Regions from separate parts of the Homo sapiens genome. Here region 2 is linked to region 1. Evidence: fine-mapped expression QTL. A gene starts in region 1. The other region holds a variant in brackets. All regions are shown on one strand. Distances are from middle to middle. Region 1 holds the start of NDUFA5 (NADH:ubiquinone oxidoreductase subunit A5). Region 2 overlaps IQUB (IQ motif and ubiquitin domain containing).

The links. PIP is the estimated chance that this variant, and not a neighbour inherited with it, causes the effect. A credible set is the group of variants that fine-mapping cannot tell apart.
Region 2: its variant is the best candidate, but not a certain one, in a credible set for the expression of NDUFA5 in gastroesophageal junction (GTEx, PIP 0.63).

The regions. Positions count from the first base shown.
Region 1 is chr7:123,552,919-123,562,354 of GRCh38, forward strand. It overlaps NDUFA5 (NADH:ubiquinone oxidoreductase subunit A5), which reads right to left and starts at 4,900. Exons shown (of 5, transcript NM_005000.5): 1 at 4,857-4,900; 2 at 4,486-4,530. The coding sequence starts at 4,877. RefSeq lists enhancers at 4,030-4,608, 4,173-5,372, 4,609-5,187, 4,928-4,977, 5,238-5,377.
Region 2 is chr7:123,467,919-123,477,354 of GRCh38, forward strand. It overlaps IQUB (IQ motif and ubiquitin domain containing), which reads right to left. Exons shown (of 13, transcript NM_178827.5): 9 at 1,296-1,466. Among named protein-coding and RNA genes, the nearest start is that of IQUB, 62 kb to the right of the region's middle. The variant T/TCC (reference allele first, on the strand shown) is at 3,714.

The sequences.
Region 1 (9,436 bases):
ATTCAGCTCCTCTTTTGCTGACTTGCCAATAGCTTTCTTGCAATGTATTTTCATACTTTCTCTAATAAATCTGCCTTTCTTTACCTCAAATGTCTTGGTAAATTATTTTTACCACCACGCAACACCAGCCCCAGACAGTCGCTACCCGCGAAAAAATATACTCAGTACTTCCATGTACAATACCACACTGTTTGCGTATAAAGATAGACTGGACATGGATCACACTCCAATATGTTTAAGGTACTATCGAGTGTACTTATCTGTTCTCATGCTGCTAATAGAGACATACCTGAGACTGGGTGATTTATAAAGGAAAAGAAGTTTAATGAACTTACAGTTCCACATGGCTGGAGAGGCCTCACAATCATGGCAGAAGATGAAAGAGGGGCAAAGGCTTGTCTTACATGGCAGGAAGCAAGAGAGCATGTGCAGGGGACCTGCCCTTTATAAAACCATCAGATCTCACGAGACTTCTTCACTATCACAAGAACAGCATGGGAAAAACCCACCCCATGATTCAATTACCTCCCACCAGGTTCCTCTCCCACGACACATGGGGATTATGGGAGCTACAATTCAAGATGAGATTTGGATGGGGACAGAGCTAAACCATATCACAGGGTAAGCTACAGAAGAGGAAAAATAATAAAAATGATAAAAAGAAAAAATAAGTGTGTGTTTGGCAGGGATGGGGAAATACATAGAGCAAAGAGATATTATAATACTTAGCAACGGTTAAGGGTGTGCTAACCAGAACATAACTGCTTGAGTTTACACTGGCTCCACTCCTTAGGTGCACTGGACAAGTTATTTCCATCTCTGTGCCTTCATCCCTCATCTGTAAGATGGGAATAATACTGCCTCATAGGGTATATACAACTTAGAACAGTACCTGGTACACATTAAGTTTCACTAAGTATTAGCATTATTTTTCTATAGCAGAAGAAGAATTCACTTCAGCTGAGACCAGAGAAGCATTCATATTTCAAAAAGGTGGCATCTAAGATAGACCCAGAGGGATGGTAGATCATAGAAACTTAAATGATATTGGAAAAGGCAATTACATACAGAATACATAGAACTGAATGGCAGAAAATACAGCAAACATAAGGAAGTGGTATATAGTTCTATTTTCTTGAACTGTGCTGTCTAAAACAGTAGATGCTAGCTAAATATGGCTACTGAGCATTTGATATGTGGCTAGTCCAAACTGAGATGTGTTATAAGTATAAATACATACCAGAGTTGGAAAATTTAGTATGAAGAAAAACACTATAAAATACCATTAATTTTTTTATTATATACTGAAATGGCAATATTTTAGATTTGTTAGGGTAAATAAAATAATTAAATTTTACCTTTTTCTTCATTAAAAAATTAGTCCTAGAAAATTTTAAATTACATACAAATATGGCTTACATTTAAGGCTCGCATTATGTTTTTAATGGCCAGCACTTGGTTAGAATACAGTAGCTCCCCTTTACCCATCCGTGGTTTCATTTTCCAAGGTTTCAGTTACTAATAGTCAACCTCAGTCAGAAAATATTAAATGAAAAATTCCAGAAATAAACAATTTATAAGTTTTAAACTATGTGCCGTTCAAAGTAGTGTGGTGAAATCTCACACTATCCCACTCTATCCTTTCTTCATCACAAGAGGGTGGTACAGTACAGTAAGATATTTTGAGACAAAGAGACCACATTCACATAACTTTTATTACAGTATATTGTTATAATTGTTCTATTTTATTAGTTGTTATCTCTTTTTTTTTTTTTTCTTTTTTGAGACAGGGTCTCACTCCATCACCCAGGCTAGAGTGTAATGGCATCATCACAGCTCACTGCAGCCTCAACCTCTGGGGCTCAAGCAATCCTGCTGCCTCTGCCTCCCGAGTAGCTGGGACTAGGTGCACACCACCACACCTGATTAATTTCCACATTTTTTGTAGAGACGGGGTTTTGCCATGTTGGCCAGGCTGGTCTTAAACTCCTGGGCTAAAGCAATCCACCCGCCTCAGCCTCCCAAAGTGCTGGGATTACAGGCGTGAGCCAGCACGTCCAGCCTGCTTATCTCTTATTGTGCCTAATTCATAAATTAAACTTTATTATAGGTATGTATGAAACAAAACATAGCATATATACAGTTTGGTACTATATGTGGTTTTCAGACATCCACTGGGGATTTTGGAATATACTGCTGTACAGGACACATAAGGAAATGCATAGGAGATAAAGTTAGAGAAAATGTCACATTATAAGTGGTTCTGCATTCCAAGTTAAAGCATTCGGGCTTTATTCTGTGGACAATTAAAAGATTTAGGAAAATCATATGATTAGATTAGGAAAATTAGCTTCATTGTAGTGAGTTAAAAGGACTGAAGGAGAAACAAGGCAGAAAGGCCAGTAAGGAGGTTGTTGCAATTCTCTAAACAAGAACAAGGACCTGAACTATGGTAGTAACAATAGAAATAGTAAACAGAAGTCAGACTGGAGAGCTGTTATAGAAAAGGATCAGCAAAAAAAATAAAAATAAAAATCATCATTGGAATGAATATGAGAGTACAAGTATAAGAGAAATACCAACTATGATGTCCAAATTCCCAGCCTAGGGAGTAGAAAGATCTGAAACTATCAAGAAAAATACAGCCCACAGAGGAAGAAATATATTTAGAAGGGAAAAACCATGAGTTCAGTTCTTTACATCAATGACAATAAAGTTATTATGAAATCATAGGAAGTGCAAGACACTCATTCAACTAACACTATTTACTGAGCACATACTATGTGACAGAGTTCTAGCAGTGAAACAATTACAAATCCCTGCCTTCATGAAACCTACATTCTAGTAGAGACATAACAAAATAAATCAGTAGAATAGTGAACCAGAGGGTCACAGTAAGAAACTTGTCTTTATTTAGAGTGAAATGGAAAGCCATTAGTTTTAAGGAAAGGAGAGATCTGACCTACCTCATATTTTAACAGACTAACTCTAGTAGCCTGGCTGGAAAAAAAGACCAAATGGAGGCTGTGACAAGCATTGAGAGGCAGTTAAGAAGTGAATGCAATTATCCACATCAGTGATGATGGTGACTGAGGAAGAGGGTAGTAGCAGAGGAGGTAGTGAGATGTTGTCAAAATCAAGATATATTTTGAAGGTGGAACCTAGAGGGTTTACTGAAATAACAAATGTGGAGTGTAAGAGAAAGGAAGGAATCAAAGATGATTTCAAGTTTCTGACCTGAGTCAAAATAATTGAGCTGCCATTAATTGAGATGAGCAAGACTGAGAGAAGAGCAGGTTTTAGGCAGAAGATCAGGAACCCCATTTTGGACATGTTAAGTTTGGGTTGCCTGTCTGACACATACAAATAGAGATGCCCACTAAGCAATTAAATATTCAGGACTTTTATAAAGGAAGAGGTCAGTGCTTTACATGGAAATCTGTTGTCAGTGTATAGGTGGTATTTAAAACCGTTCTCTATTTGGATTTGCTCTCTCTTGGTGACAGAGTACAGGTCCAAAAGAAAAGGTCCAAGAACTAAATCCTGACTAACTCAAATTTTAAAAGTGGGCATAAGAGAAATAACCAGAAAAAGAGAAAGCCAAAGAGTAGGGGGAAAAAATCAGGAGACTGGGGGAGTCCTGAAGCCCAGTAAAGAAAGCGCATGATGGAAAAAGTGTCAAATGTGTCAAAAAAAAAAAAACGCTGCTATTAGGTCAATGAAGGTGAGAAACATAAGCTGACCATTGGATTTGGCAACATGGAGATAACTGGTGAACTTGAAAAGAGCGTGATGGAAAAAGTGTCAAATGTGTCAAAAAACGCTGCTATTAGGTCAATGAAGGTGAGAAATATGAGCTGACCATTGGATTTGGCAGCATGGAGATAATTGGTGAACTTGAAAAACGCCAAGGGTGACTGAGTGCATTCAAGGGTGAATAAGAAAGAAATTGGAGAAAATAGAGATAACTCTTTTGAGTTATCTGTAAAGTGAAGCAAAGAAATGGTGTGATTATAGAAGGGACAAGAAGAATAAAAAAATTTTGTGGGTTTTTTTGATGAAAACATTCGTGAATACAGATGGAAAAGACCTAACAGAAGGAAAAGGGGGCAGTACCTTTAGTAAGCCTAAATATATGTAATCCAACGCACCTAAGCAGAAACGGTAAGGCAAGGAGAAAAGATGGAAAACGGAGATATAAATTTGAGATGGCGCTGACAGAAGCAAGCACAAGTGAAGCCATGAAAATGTCAAGGAAAAAGTCAACAAGAAAACTGGCTTAATAAAGAGGTCATGGCAAAAATAAATAAAAATGTGACATCGGATCAACGAAGTAGGTGGACAGCGCCCGTGTCTCAAGAGCTCACGCGGCTTGTAATTAAGGGCTTGAAACATCTGTATCCCGTTAACCCTGCAATAAGCAAAGTGACAGGAATTTAGTCTTCCTTGGGAATTCAAGAACGAAGAAAGAACAAAGGTACATACCTCGTGAGGAGTATTGCACACAGCCAATCCCACAAGGCCAGTGGTCTGTTCAAAAACAAAACACGATTCATGCTGTTTACTACGGTTTCCATACATCCAGCACGCTAAGGAAATACAAAACCACGAATCCCCCGGCTAAAACTGGTCTAAAGCCAGCTACTGGTCTCTCAGTCTCGCTTGTTTGGAGCTTTTTTCCTGACTCTCGGAGCGGAACCACTAACCTGCCCTACCCGGTAAGGCATGCAGAACGAGTCCCCGAAAAGCACCGCCGAGCCCGCGACAGTAGGGGTCAACACCCGCGGGAAGTAGGGCTATCGGACTGAGTCTACCCCCACAGTCTAAATTCCAACAGTGACCTCCATTCGTCTCACCTTCTTCAGCACACCCGCCATGACAGCGCCAACGACTCGGTGACGCACAACCCTTTGGGAACAATTCTCAGACCTGCTCAATCGACCACCGAGGTCGCCACTCTGTCACCCTGGAAACAGCTTAGCTCCACCCCTTCAGGATCGCCAAAGGAGCAAAGACTCTGCCCCGCCCATCTTAAAAGAGAAAAATTGACGCATGCGCGATGGGCATACAAGCCTAAAGCTAAGCTAGAAGACGATTGGGGAAAGAAAGGGTTTCCCAGCTGTCTGTTCCTGTTCCTGCCACTGCTGACGGCTTGCCCAAAGATTGAGGGAAACACTCCCAACTACCAAAAAACTCCAGTCGCTGTAGGAACCTGCACTGTGCTTAACCGTTGATGCATTCCTCAACCTTCCTTTCTCAGTTTAGTAAAATGAAAGTGATAACGGAGCTTGAGCATCCTCTGAATTGATCTCTCAACAGCAAGTTAGTTCTTCGCACAAGGATATCAGTATTCTCTGTGTCTTACGAACCAAAGCCCTATGGAGTGTGAGGTCATTTTCCATCGCTCTTTTCGATTTCACTGGCTGAAATACATCATCTTATTTCCAGATGAAATGATATCAGACCATACCACTTTTTCCTACCTCCACAAACACTGACCACTCACTATGTGTCAGTTACTGGGACATAATTTCTAAAATGGGATTTCACATCCTGGAATTCAAAGAATAATGAAGAAGGCGTGTATTAATAAATAATTTGGTAACTGTTCTAAAAGAAGTTGATGCAAAGTGTGATGGTACCAGGGAAAAGGAAATAACTAAAAAGCGTGGGTGACTTTCTAAAAAGTCAGTAGGAGAAAAGAACAAATTGAGAAAACACAAGTACAAAGGAAAAGAGGTTAAAAATGTATATATAAATTCCAGGTGATTTTATGTGATTGGAAAGGTGGGTTTGATTGTTAAGGTAAACTGGTTAAGATTATGAAAGGTGTTGTTTGCCATTATACAAAATTTGAATTTTACTTTTTAAGGAATGGGAACAATGAGAAGACTTTTAAGCTTCTAAGTGACACCATCAAATTTATGTTTCAGATATACAAACAACTTAGGCAACAGTTGAAGAGAATGAGTTGGAAGAGATGAGGCCTTTCATTAGAGGCATGAGACTAGAAAAAATGAAAGCTAAACCAAAAGCAAACAGAAGAAAGGAAATATTAAAGATTAGAAAAGAAGGAGACAGAATATCAATAAAGAAAATCAATGAAACCAGGAATTGGTTCCCTAAAAGGATCAACAAAATTGGCAAACCTTTAGTGAAACTAAGAAAAAAAAGAGAGAAGATTTAATACAAGCAAGAATAAAAGAACCATCACTAATAGCCTTGCTGAAATAAACAGGAATAAGAAGGAATACTATGAACAACTATGCTTAAAAAAGATAAAGTAGATAAAATGGCCAGATTCCTAGAAAAACACAAACTACCTAAATCAACTCAAGAAGGCATAAAGAAAAATCTGACTAGATCTAACATAATTAAAGAAATTGAATTAGCAAGAAAAAAAAAAAAACCTATCCAGAAGGAAAAGCACAGGTCCAGATGGCTTCGCTGGTAAATTCCACTGAACAATTAAAGAATAACACTTAAGAAACTATTCCAAAATATAGAAGAGGAGGAAACAATTAACAACTAATTCTATAAGGCAAGTATTACTCTGATTCCAACCAGACAAAGAAATCAACAAGAAACAAAAACTTCAGCCAGGTGTGGACTCTGATTCCAACCAGACAAAGAAATCAACAAGAAAAGAAAACTTCGGCTGGGCCTGGTGGCTCATGCCTGTAATCCCAGCACTTTGGGAAGCTGAGGCAGGAGGATCACCTGAGGTCAAGGGTTTGAGACAGCCTGGCCAACATGACAAAACCTTCTCTCTACTAAAAATACAAAAATTAGCCAGGCCTTGTGGTGTGTGCCTGTAATCTCAGCTACTCTGGAGGCTGAGACAGGAGAATCACTCAAACTCAGGAGGCAGAGGTTGCAGTGAGCCAAGATTGGGCCATTGCACTCTAGCCTGGGTGACAGAGCAAGATTCCGTCTCACAAAAAAAAAAAAAAAAAAGGAAAGAAAAAAGAAAATAAAACTTCAGGCCAATATCCCTTATTAATAAACACAAAATACTCAGAAAAGTACTAGCAAACCAAATTCAGTAGCATATGAAAAAAAAATTATACACCACAAATAAATGATATTTATTTCAAAAATACAAAGTTGGTTTAACATCCCCAAATCAATTAATCTAATGTACCATTGAATACAGGACAAAAACTATATGATAATTTTAATAGATGCAGAAAAAGCATTGGACAAATTTCAACATGCTTTCATGATAAAAGCACACAACAAGCTGGGAAAAGAAGAGAAATTTTTCAACCTGATAAAGATGCTTAGAAAAACCCCACAACATCATACTTAAGAGTGAAAGGCAATTCTTTTCTGCTAAGATCATTCACAAGACAAATATTTTTCCACTCTCACCACTTCTATCCAACAATATATTGGAAATATTAGCTAAGGGAATTAGGCAAGAAAATAAAATGAATAAAAGTCATCCAGAAGAGACAGGAAAAAGTAAAACTATCTCTATTCACAGTTGCATAATCTTTTATATAGGATTATTAAGGAATACACACATACATACAATTAAAACAAATAACTTCAGCAAAGTTACATTATACGTGATCTATCAGGGTCAGCTCAGGCTGCCATAACAAAATACTATGGATGAGGTGGCTTAAACAACAGAAATGTATTTCTCACAGTTCTGAAGGCTGATAAGTTTAAGACCAAAGCCAGCAAGACAGATTTCATTCTGAGGCTTTTTCTTTTGGCTTATACTGGTTACCCTCTCATGGTATGCTCATATTTACCTCTTTTCGTGTGTGCTTGGGGTTGGGTCAGGGTGGAGAGCAAGATCTCTGGTGTCCCTTTTTATAAGGCCACTGTTACCATCATGACCTCATCTAAACCTAATTATCTCCCAAAGATTCCATCTCCAAATACCATTTTATTGAGGTTTAGAGCTGTAATATATGAAATCTGGGGGACATAGTCCATAGCAATCAATATACAAAAATATGCTCTAGTCTATTATAGCAATGAATAATCTGAAAATAAATTAAGAAAACAATTCTATTTACCATAGCATCAAAAAGAAATAAATCTAACAAAATAAGTGTAACACTTGTACACTGAAAAGTATTAAATATTGTTGGAAATACTAAAGATCTAAATAAATAGACATTTCTTATTTAATGATTTGAAGTCAATATTGGTCAGATGGCAATACTCAAGTTGATGTAGCGTTTCATCACAATTCCTATCAAAATCCCAGCTTCCTTTTTGCAGAAATTTTTCACAAAAGATTTGTCAGTAGCAGAAGGCACTGTTTGATAACACTTGTCTCACAGAAGAACTCTCAAAATTGGAATCAGTCCTCTCAATTCTGCTGCTGCTTTATCAACCAAATTTATAAAATATTATAAAGACTTTGTTGTCATTTAAACAATATTCACAGTATCTTCACCAGGAGTAGATTCCATCTCAAGAAACCACTTTCTTTGTTCATTCAAGAAGCAACTCATCATCTGATCAAGTTTTATCATGAGATTGCAGCAGTTCAGTCACATCTTCAAGCTCTACTTCTAATTCTGGTTCTCTTGCTGTTTTCCTCACATTTGCAATGGCTTTTTCCACTGATCTTCAACCCCTCAAAGTCATCCATGTGAGTTGGAATCAACTTTTGCTAAACTCCTGTTAATATTGATATTTTGACCTCCTTGCATGAATCACCAATTTTTTTTTTGAGACAGAGTCTCTATTGCCCAGGCTGGAGTGCAGTGGCATGATCTTGGCTCACTGCAACCTCTGCTGCCCCAGTTCAAGCAATTCTCCTGCCTCAGCCTCCCGAGTAGCTGGAATTACAGGCATCTGCCACCGCACCCGGCTAATTTTTGTATTCTTAGTAGAGACGGGGTTTCACCGTCTTGGCCGGGCTGGTCTTGAACTCCTGACCTCATGATCCACCCACCTCAGCCTTCCAAAGTGCTAGGATTACAAGCGTGGCCACCGCACCTGGCCCATGAATCACCAAATCTTTTTAATAGCATCTAGTGTGGTCAGTTCTTTCAAGAAGGTTTTCAATTTATGTTACCCAGATCTGTCAGAGGAATCGGTATTTATGGTAACTATAGCCTTATAAAATGTATTTTTTTAAATAAGACTTGAAAGTGGACATTACTCCTTGACTCGTGGACTGCAGAATGATGACTGCAGCATGTTGTGCGTGAAAACAATGTTAATCTCTTTGTACATCTTCATCCTCAGGGCTCTTGAGTGACCAGGTACATTTTCAATGAGCAGTAATATTTTGAAAGAAATCTTCTTTTTTCTTAGCCCAGACTTTGTTGTTCCATTTATAGAACACAGGCAGACTAGATTTAGCATCATTCTTCAGGGTCCTAGGATTTTCAGGATGGTAAGTGAGCATGGGCTTCAACAGCTGCATAAGCCTGTAACAAGAGAGTTAGCCTGTCTTTTG
Region 2 (9,436 bases), 85 kb before region 1:
TCTGAGCTACAACTAATGCCTAAGCTCCGCAGGCCAAGAGACCTGCGGGCAAGGCAAGTGTTTTCTTGCTTATAGAGGTAACTGACTCTGATCTTCAAAAGGCAATGGTGCAGTTATTACCCAATAGGGACAGAGAAGAATATGTTTGGCACCCAGGTAATGGGCATTTCTTGGTATATCTTTGCTTGATTTTGACAGTAAATGGAAGTCTGGTAGCCTCAGACTGAGAAAAGCATAGTGACCTGTGGTTCAGACCTCTCAAGATGCAAGTCACTCCAAAAAGTGGGTCACCTGGACCAGTCAAGATGCTAGTTCAGGGAGAAGGAAATCTAAAATAGATAGTAGAGGAAGGAAACAGTGAGTATCTCTTGTGGCCTTAAAGCCAATGACTACACTAGGGGCTGCAGTTTTTCTTAACCTTGCTTTGGGGCCTATCTAAATCCAGAGGAGCTAATCCTGAAACCTACAACATGAAGTGGATCCAGGCAGCAGCGTGTGTATTCTCCCCATCCTGGCAGATTGGTGGCTGACAACTCTCAAGCGAGGCTCTTCCTGAGAATTGCTCTCTATTAAAGAAAGTTATCTCATCCAAAGCTATGCCCTTCTGGGGCAGCCCATCCAATACGTGGTCAAAATTGTCCTGGCCCCTTGCCTAAATTCAGGACAACTCTGGATGGCCTTTCCAGTTTTAGAATTCCCCGTGACACTGGCTGAAGTCATTGTTCAGAATCCACCACAATTTAATTTCTCTATCCTCCCGATTCTGATTTCTCTACTGCCTCACAGGAATTATCCTGATAGCACTCTCCAACAAACTTCCTGAATATAAACCCCATCTCTGAGTTTGTTTCTTGTTTCTTGGGAAAATTTGATCTGTGACATCCACTAACTTTGTTTTCATTAAAAGTAGGATTAAGAACACAGAAAATCAATAATTGATGAGAAAAAAGATAAAAATACAATGGTGCTGCTTTAAAACTGCTAAAAATCAATTTTTCACTGAAAAATGTCAAAATATGTAGATTATAATTGCTGTTTATGTAATTACTAATCTCATGCTATACTGCATATATTTGCATTCATTGCATAAAGATATATTTACATTCATTATATTTACATTTATTATGTATTATATTTTGAGAACTTTTAGGTAAATATTAATGCATAAACCACATCCTTCCCAAATTATACCAAAACAATTCTTAATGTAAAACACTTTACTTGTTTTAGTATTTCATTAATTTTTTTTTATTGACAGTGAACTCTACCCCCAAACTAAGAGAAAGTTAACATACCTTTACAGTGTGTTTAAGAGTTAACAGCACATCCAGCCTCTCATCTTGGGAGATATTTTTCAGCATAATGCACTTATAGATATTTTGCAGCTCTCTGGCTCTGATGGTGAACTGCGTATCCATCTCAATTGTTTTGCCATTAGGGGTTCTCCATATTTTTGGAGCTGAACACTTAAAAATAATATTATGTTTATAATTATCAGTTAATTAGAAACTACGTATAACAATTTTGCTCCTTCTACTAAAAGTCTACCTTAATATCATGTGCTTTATAACTAAAGTATTGCTAAAGCTTATGAAAATTAATTTAAGAATTTGCAGATCAGGCAAAAGTAAAATATTTTAGAAAAAAACAAATAAGAATGACAGTTATTCAGTCTGTAGAAGTTCATACACTTCTACAATATTCAGGATTTGCTACTAGTTTTTTATGTTGAATTGTTTGAGAGATGTATGGAATTACTCATTAACCCCATGAGGACAATTATTTGCTTGGTTCAATTATATTGAGTGTATATAAATATGTCTTGATCCTGCCTTGCCAATTGAATATAACTTTTGTAGAGTAATTATGACAATCCTCAATATATTTAGACCTAAAGATATACCAAAAAGGGACTCTGTGAGTTATGGTTTAATGTCCTATAAAAATACTTCTATAAGAAGTTCAAAATTCTTCTCAAAGCAGATGTCCATAGTGAAAGAGCTATATTGCTATCTTAACTGTGCTGGGCTGTGGTTCCTGCCTCCCTGATGCTGGCTAAGATTCTCACTTCCTATTTCCAAATCTGGCTTGGTGCCTCCCAACCTAGCCCACCTCCTAAATGAAGGGCCAAAAATGAAGTTCACTTGCCCTGAAGCTCATCTGAGGACTCCCAGGCTAAGAATTCAGAGATTAGAGACAGGAGGTGAAATTAGTCCTCTACCGACTCAGGAAACAGGATAATCTTTAATGATGATACCTCTGTGTTTGCCACTGCTTCTGTTCCCTCTGACAGGGACATTTAGAGGAGATGCATTCACCCAGAAATTTCACAGTGAACACTTACTGTCTATTAGCTCTTCCACTTTAGGGTACAAAGCTGCTCAGTTTCTTTCCCTAATGATAATTTTTCAGAAACAAGACTATGTTGATCATGACAATTCTTCAAAAACATGTTGGATGTTTTTGTAGGTTAACTGTAATTGCTCTGGTGTCCTTGTAATACAATTTACACCATACTTGCAAACATTTAAATCTTAGATGTGATCTAATGTAAGGTTTAAATGGAAGCTCTATGTATTGGAACAGATCATCAGGAATATGGACTAACCAAATAGAGACATTATATAAAACTGTATTTAGAATGACAGTAGGCTGGGTGCAGTGGCTCACGCCTGTAATCCCAGCCACTTTGGGAGGCCGAGGCGGGCAGATCACGAGGTCAGGAGATCGAGACCATCCTGGCTAACACGGTGAAACCCCGTCTCTACTAAAACTACAAAAAATTAGCCGGGCGTGGTGACGGACACCTGTAGTCCCAGCTACTCGGGAGGCTGAGGCAGGAGAATGGCATGAACCTGGGAGGCGGAGCTTGCAGTGAGCCGAGATCGCGCCACTGCACTCCAGCCTGGGTGACAGAGCAAGACTCTGTCTCAAAAAAAAAAAAGAAAAAAGAAAAAAACAATGACAGTATCAGGAGGGAATTTTAGTTGTAACATCAATTTACAACTAATTTTTTATATTTCACATTAGCTAAATCACATTGAGAACTGCAAAGCTACCTCTTAAAAACAACTATATTTGATATATTCTCAAAGTAATGGCATCATATTCAGATCAAAGCCAAAATGAATGTTATTCAGAGGTAGGAATCTTCATCAGAAACTTTAGATTCTCAGCTCCAGTTTCAATCCAGTAAATGAGAAGCTGCAGCCCTATAATTAATTTAAATTGTTACAGCATAAATTCAATATTAAATAATGTATTATTATCAGACCGATATAATTAAGATTGATTAAAAGCTTATAAGGAAAATAGCTCAATAATAAAATATTTTATCATTCAATTCTCATCACTTAGGAATAAAATAATTTTTAAATGCATATAGCCTTATTTTGGGTAGGCCTCAGAGTGTTACTGAAGTTTGATGCTTATTTTAAAGCTCTTTTTAAAAAGTTTTTAAAGGCTAGGGCTAAGTTTCATGCTGTAATATTCTAAAGTCTAACCAATGTCTTAATCTTTGCATACAATTTTCCTCAGGTTTGCTGTATTAAATGCAATTGCTTTTCTTCCAGTAATTTGGACAACACCTTTTGATCTGCATGGTGGTAAATTATTTCATTTGTAATAATTCAAATACAATAACCTTTTTATGAAACACCTACTTTACCTATCACATTGTATTTTTCAGTTGATAGACTGATTTAACTCTGTTT[T/TCC]CCCCCCCAAGTTTTTAGCCTAACAAATATAGCATAATGTGGTTAGATCTTGGTTTCCAAATACATTCTTCATCTAAGTCCTTTCCACCTTTCCATTTTGAACTCAAACCCTACCTCTTCCATAAAGATTCCTCTAACTACTATAGTTTGAAACAATTATATCACTTGTATGTGAAATCCTATTGCACTTGTAAAAACACACAAGTATACAATGTCTCTATTTCAGTGACTACAGGCAATGAAATTTGGATCCAAATTACTTTATAATTGTTTTATGTTTGCTAACTCCATTTCTCCCAAAAGAGTATGAGAAATAAATTTCTCGGCCGGACACGGTGGCTCACACCTGTAATTTCAGCACTTTGGGAGGCCAAGGCGGGCAGATTACTTGAGGTCAGAAGTTCGAGAACAGCCTGGCCAACACGGTGATAACTCATCTCTACTAAAAACACAAAATTTAGCTGAGTGCGGTGGCACTCACCTGTAATCCCAGCTACTTGTGAGGCTGAGGCAGGAGAATTGCTTCAACCCAGGAGGTGGAAGTTGCAGTGCACCAAGTCTGCACCACTGCACTCCAGCCTGGGCAACAGTGCAAGACCCCAACTCAAAAAAAAAAAGAAAAAAGAAAAGAAAAGGAAAGAAATAAAGAAAGAAAGAGAAAGAAATTTCTCATGTAGTTCTATATATCTCACAGTGTCTACAATACTCTTTCATTCATTCAACAAATATTTACTGTGTTTACTATACATTAATCAATGTATTAGGCACTGAGTAGATAAAATACTATCCTGGTTTCAAGAACTCTCAAATCTCATGGGATGGAAGGGTAAGAAAATGAGTAATTAGAAAAAAAGATGAGTACGCTTGATGACTGTAGATAAATAGGTAACTATGGGTTGCTATGAAGCACTTAACTGGTAAAAAGAAAGTATCTAAGATGAAATCTGAAGAATAACTAGGAGTTAGCCAGATTAAAGGGAACCGAGTGATACAATCAAAGAATCCTAGATTTGAAGTTCAAGTTCCCTAGAGCTGGCACTGAAAAGATATTAAAAAATCTGTTCAGCAAAGCTGTTTTTATACTTAGATGTATTTCTGCCAACACAGATAACTTGATCTTCAAGCCTAGGCTTTTTTGATTTCAGGGCTTAAGGTGTTTTTAACTCTGACGCAGGAAAAATGTCAACTTTGCTTATTTCTCTTCCTTATTTCCTTTTTTCTTTGAAAGCTTTGGCTGTGATAACAGATATACAACAATCATGTACTTAAATTGCTTCAGAAAATAGGAGCATAATAAATTCCATTTAGCTGCCAACAAAAGAGACAGCACAGACCCTGGAAGAGAGAAACAGAAGAACAGCAGGAAGACACATTTCAGGGAAAGGAAGGTGGAGAAATAACAAGAACCTGGAGAGCAGCAGGCTTCCACAAAAAAGAAGAAATGACTGCACTAGGAAAGTAGATATTTTCTTCCTCTTAAATTAATTATCAAGCCCCTAAGGACACAAATTAAGAATAGCCCTAACTCCCCGCAGAAGCTACTATATAGTGATCAACCTTTCTTTTACACAGCACAGGGGTTTTGCTCAGCCATAGCAGCACTCTTATTTCATGCAGAGTTCAGAAAGAGGCCATGGCACTTTCCTGCCCCATTAACTGTTAGCTACCTGGGTATGGAGAAAAAGCATTTAAAAGACACAGCTAACATGGATTGCAGTTCTTTAAGCCTGCAATTGTGAATAGTGTACAAATCAACAGGCATCAAATAAATAAATGGCCTTGACTCAAGGAAAAACATCTTACAGAAATTCAAATGGTCTCTACAGAGTTTGGGTAAATAAACCCAAAGATATATTAGAAACCAGCTGATGATTTTTGATTCAAACTTCTTGACCTGAATTTCTTCACCTCTGTCAAGCTTTGTGAGTTCTTTTGTTTTTTTGTTTTTTGTTTTTTGTTTTTCTGATGGAGTCTCACTCTGTTGCCCAGGCTGGAGTGCAATGGTGCAATCTCGGCTCACTGCAGCTTCCACCTCCCGGGTTCAAGTGATTCTCCTGCCTCAGCCTCCCGAGTAGCTGGGATTACAGGCACCCGCCACAATGCCCGGCTAATTTTTTTTTTTTTTTTGTATTTTTAGTAGAGACATGGTTTTACCATGTTGGTCAGGCTGGTCTCAAACTCCTGACCTCGCGATCCACCTGCGTTGGCCTCCCAAAGTGCTGGGATTACAGGCGTGAGCCACCATGCCCAGCCAAGTTTTTAATATTTGATACTCTGTGGAAGTCAATATTTGGTGACTTAAAATTACTAATTATTTAATGCTTTAAAAATCTTTAGAGTTAGCCTTTTATTAAGAATGAGGACTTAGTATAGAGCCTATTATAATCTATTAGTTCAATGCTTTGACTGGACAAATTTAAGACTGTATAATTCATTATTCAGAGACATTCTATGTTCAGGAAAAAAGGATTAAAAATAAAATATTGTTTCAATAAACCACACAGTATTTGGACTCAAAAAAGTGAAACTGAAACTAAAATATAAAATTGTATTCTCCAAAGTTATTTCCAAATTAAAGGAAAGTAAATGTTTCTCTGGATGTATCTGTATATTGTGGTGTTAAATGAAGATCTTCAAATTCACATATGGCACTGGTTGTTTGTTAATTTTGACATCTGAAAAAACTCTGACCTTGTCTACTTGCAGGGATTAATTATAAGCTATCTTTTCTTAAAAATCAAAAACTTTAGAATAATAAGTTACTTCATTCAAGTTTTATGAAATCAACACTGACTCCTCCTGAATATTAGAGATAATACTAGGCTTGGGGGTGGGGGAGGTTGACAAGCATAGAGAAAAACAGACATTTTATAAGTATTCACATCAAAAGACTAAAATTTATCTTAATCGTCTTCTTAGTATAGAATCATATACAAAAAGGTGATTTAAATGATTCTGAATTAGAGTAACAGTGAGTTTTTAATTCACTATAGCAGGCTAAAAGCAGGCCAGAAGTCACTGTTAGTCAACATTTTTAAACACTGGACTAATTAGGCTATGTGCACTGACTGGGAGTTATCGTCAAGTGTAGCTGATCCATATTGTGGTGTGTTCTTCCTGTCCTAATACAAGTCTTTAGTCAAAACTGAAGGAAAGTCCCATTGTATCAACTAAAATGTCAATTTCCTTTAAAATTTAGCCTGGAGATTGATGAGATTAACTGGTTTATCAGCTGGGGTAACTGTGGGTTTAGAACTCCAATTCTAAAACATGTGACCCACAAAACACCTCTGCCTTGATTTCTACAAATTCTTGTGGCTAACTTCATCCTTCCCTCAATTCTCTGCCTTTCACCTTTGTGTGTTACCCTGTATCCATCTGGACATGGAGCCCAGCTTATTTATCTGGTTTCCTCTCCCTTTCCAAAAATAAAATTATGTTGCGTTTAATATTTCCTTTATTTAGTCACATAACTAAAGAAGTCACAAAAAGTCACACTGTACACCCACTGCCTTCCAATTCTCTCCTCACTTTACCTTATCTAGTTCCCTCTAGAACAACTCTTGAAAACTTCCATTTTCCTGGAACAGAACAATTCTTTCTGTACTCAGGATCCTTCAGAGTCTCAAATTCCACCCCAACAGCTTATCAAAGTATTTACAAAAAAACAAACACAAAAAAATAGATCTTCCTTCCTCCTAGGAATTCTGGTAAACAGAATTTTAAAATTTCTCCATTTCACTTTTTTTTTTTTTTTTTTTTTGGTGAGATTTACATGAAGACCATCTTAGAGTGCCACACCTCATGAGAAAGGGTAGTGGTCATCAACTGACTCTGGAATCACTTTCATATGTTGGGCCTTGATCCATTTATGGATACTCCATAATTTCAAGAAGTTTAGTTAAATGTTTACAGACAATGCTAGACATGGGGACTGGGGTAGGGAATGTTCTGGGCATAAAGAAGAATAGATATTGTGTAAGTATATACAACAATAGAATTTTAAATAGTTTGCAGGAAATAGAAAACAGTATGATGGCACTAGTGGGAAAATTCTACAGAAGGCTCAGCATCAAATAAAGAAAGGTGACACCCATCTTCCCTGTCCATGGACACTCAGAGGCTTCCAGCTCCTTTGAATATTTGTGTTGCCCTGGGCCCATACTCTCTTCTCTGGTGAGGTTAACAATTAAGTATCCCAGTGATGAAGCAGGATGCAAGGTAAAGCAATTTGCTAAACAAATAGGTTTATTTCAAAAGATGACTCCAGAGAAGTATGAATATTATAGCTTTCCTACAGTAAATTCATCTTTCCTAGAATTAATATATTTAAGCATTTAAAATGACAGTATCTACATTACATAATTTCTTGATGATACTTGGAATACAAAATTATACAACCACTATTTCTGTCCCTTATTCTTCCTCCCTACCTTCTTCCACAAACATTTATTGACACTGTGGTAAGAACTGTGCTAAGATATGAGGATACAGAGATAAATGACAACTCTTTCCTTTAAAGGTTCAAAATCTGGAAAGAATTCAGGCATGTAGGTACAATAAAGATTGCATACTATGTACAAAGACAGAGATGAGACAGTCTCATGAGAGCATATACTACAGGCTAGAGTAGGTGGACCAGCATTTGCTTTCTGGAAGAAGAGGCATCTGAGCTTGTTTCAGGGTCAATAGCTAGCTACTGAGGAAGGAAGGAAAGGATGTTCCATGTAAAGGCACCCAATGCAAAAGGATCGAGAGCACCTGGTCTTTCTGGGATATGCAAGTAATCAAGCATGGCTGAAGCAGTGTGGGTATAGTATTCAGGGAGAGATGGCAGTGATACAACAGTGAGATAAGTGAGGTTTGCAAACATGAAAATCCTTGTTCCCTAAGGGCAGTGAGGAAGGACAGGGTCAGAGTTGTGTTTAGTGAGGCCACTTTGGCAGTGATATAGATAATGGAGGAGAGAATTGAGACGTGAAACTGGAGGCAGCAGCTCAATTTGGAAACATAAAGAAATCCAGATGAGAAGAAAATCCAGATTCAATTATGTCAGGGTCGAGCTCATGCATACAAGATAAGGCAAGACCTGTCTCATGACATCCTCCCAGGGGAGATAGGAAGGCCTATTTGATATATGCAGAGTCATCAGGACACCAGGGCAGAGCTTTTTCCCTACAGGCAATGGTAGTGGGTTTGGAAAGGAAGAAGTAAAGAATTAAGGAGGTATTAGGAATCCAACTTACAAGGGATGTAAAGGACCTCTTCAAGGAGAACTACAAACCACTGCTCAATGAAATAAAAGAGGACACAAACAAATGGAAGAACATGCCATGCTCATGGATAGGAAGAATCAATATCATGAAAATGGCCATACTACCCAAGGTAATTTATCGATTCAATGCCATCCCCATCAAGCTACCAATGACTTTCTTCACAGAATTGGAAAAAAACTACTTTAAAGTTCATGTGGAAGCAAAAGAGAGCCCGCATTACCAAGACAATCCTAAGCAAAGAGAACAAAGCTGGAGGCATTATGCTACCTGACTTCAAACTATACTACAAGGCTACAGTAACCAAAACAGCATGGTACTGGTATCAAAACAGAGAGATAGACCAATGGAACAAAACAGAGGCCTCAGAAATAACACGACACATCCACAACTATCTGATCTTTGACAAACCTGACAAAAACAAGAAATGGGGAAAGGATTCCCTATTTA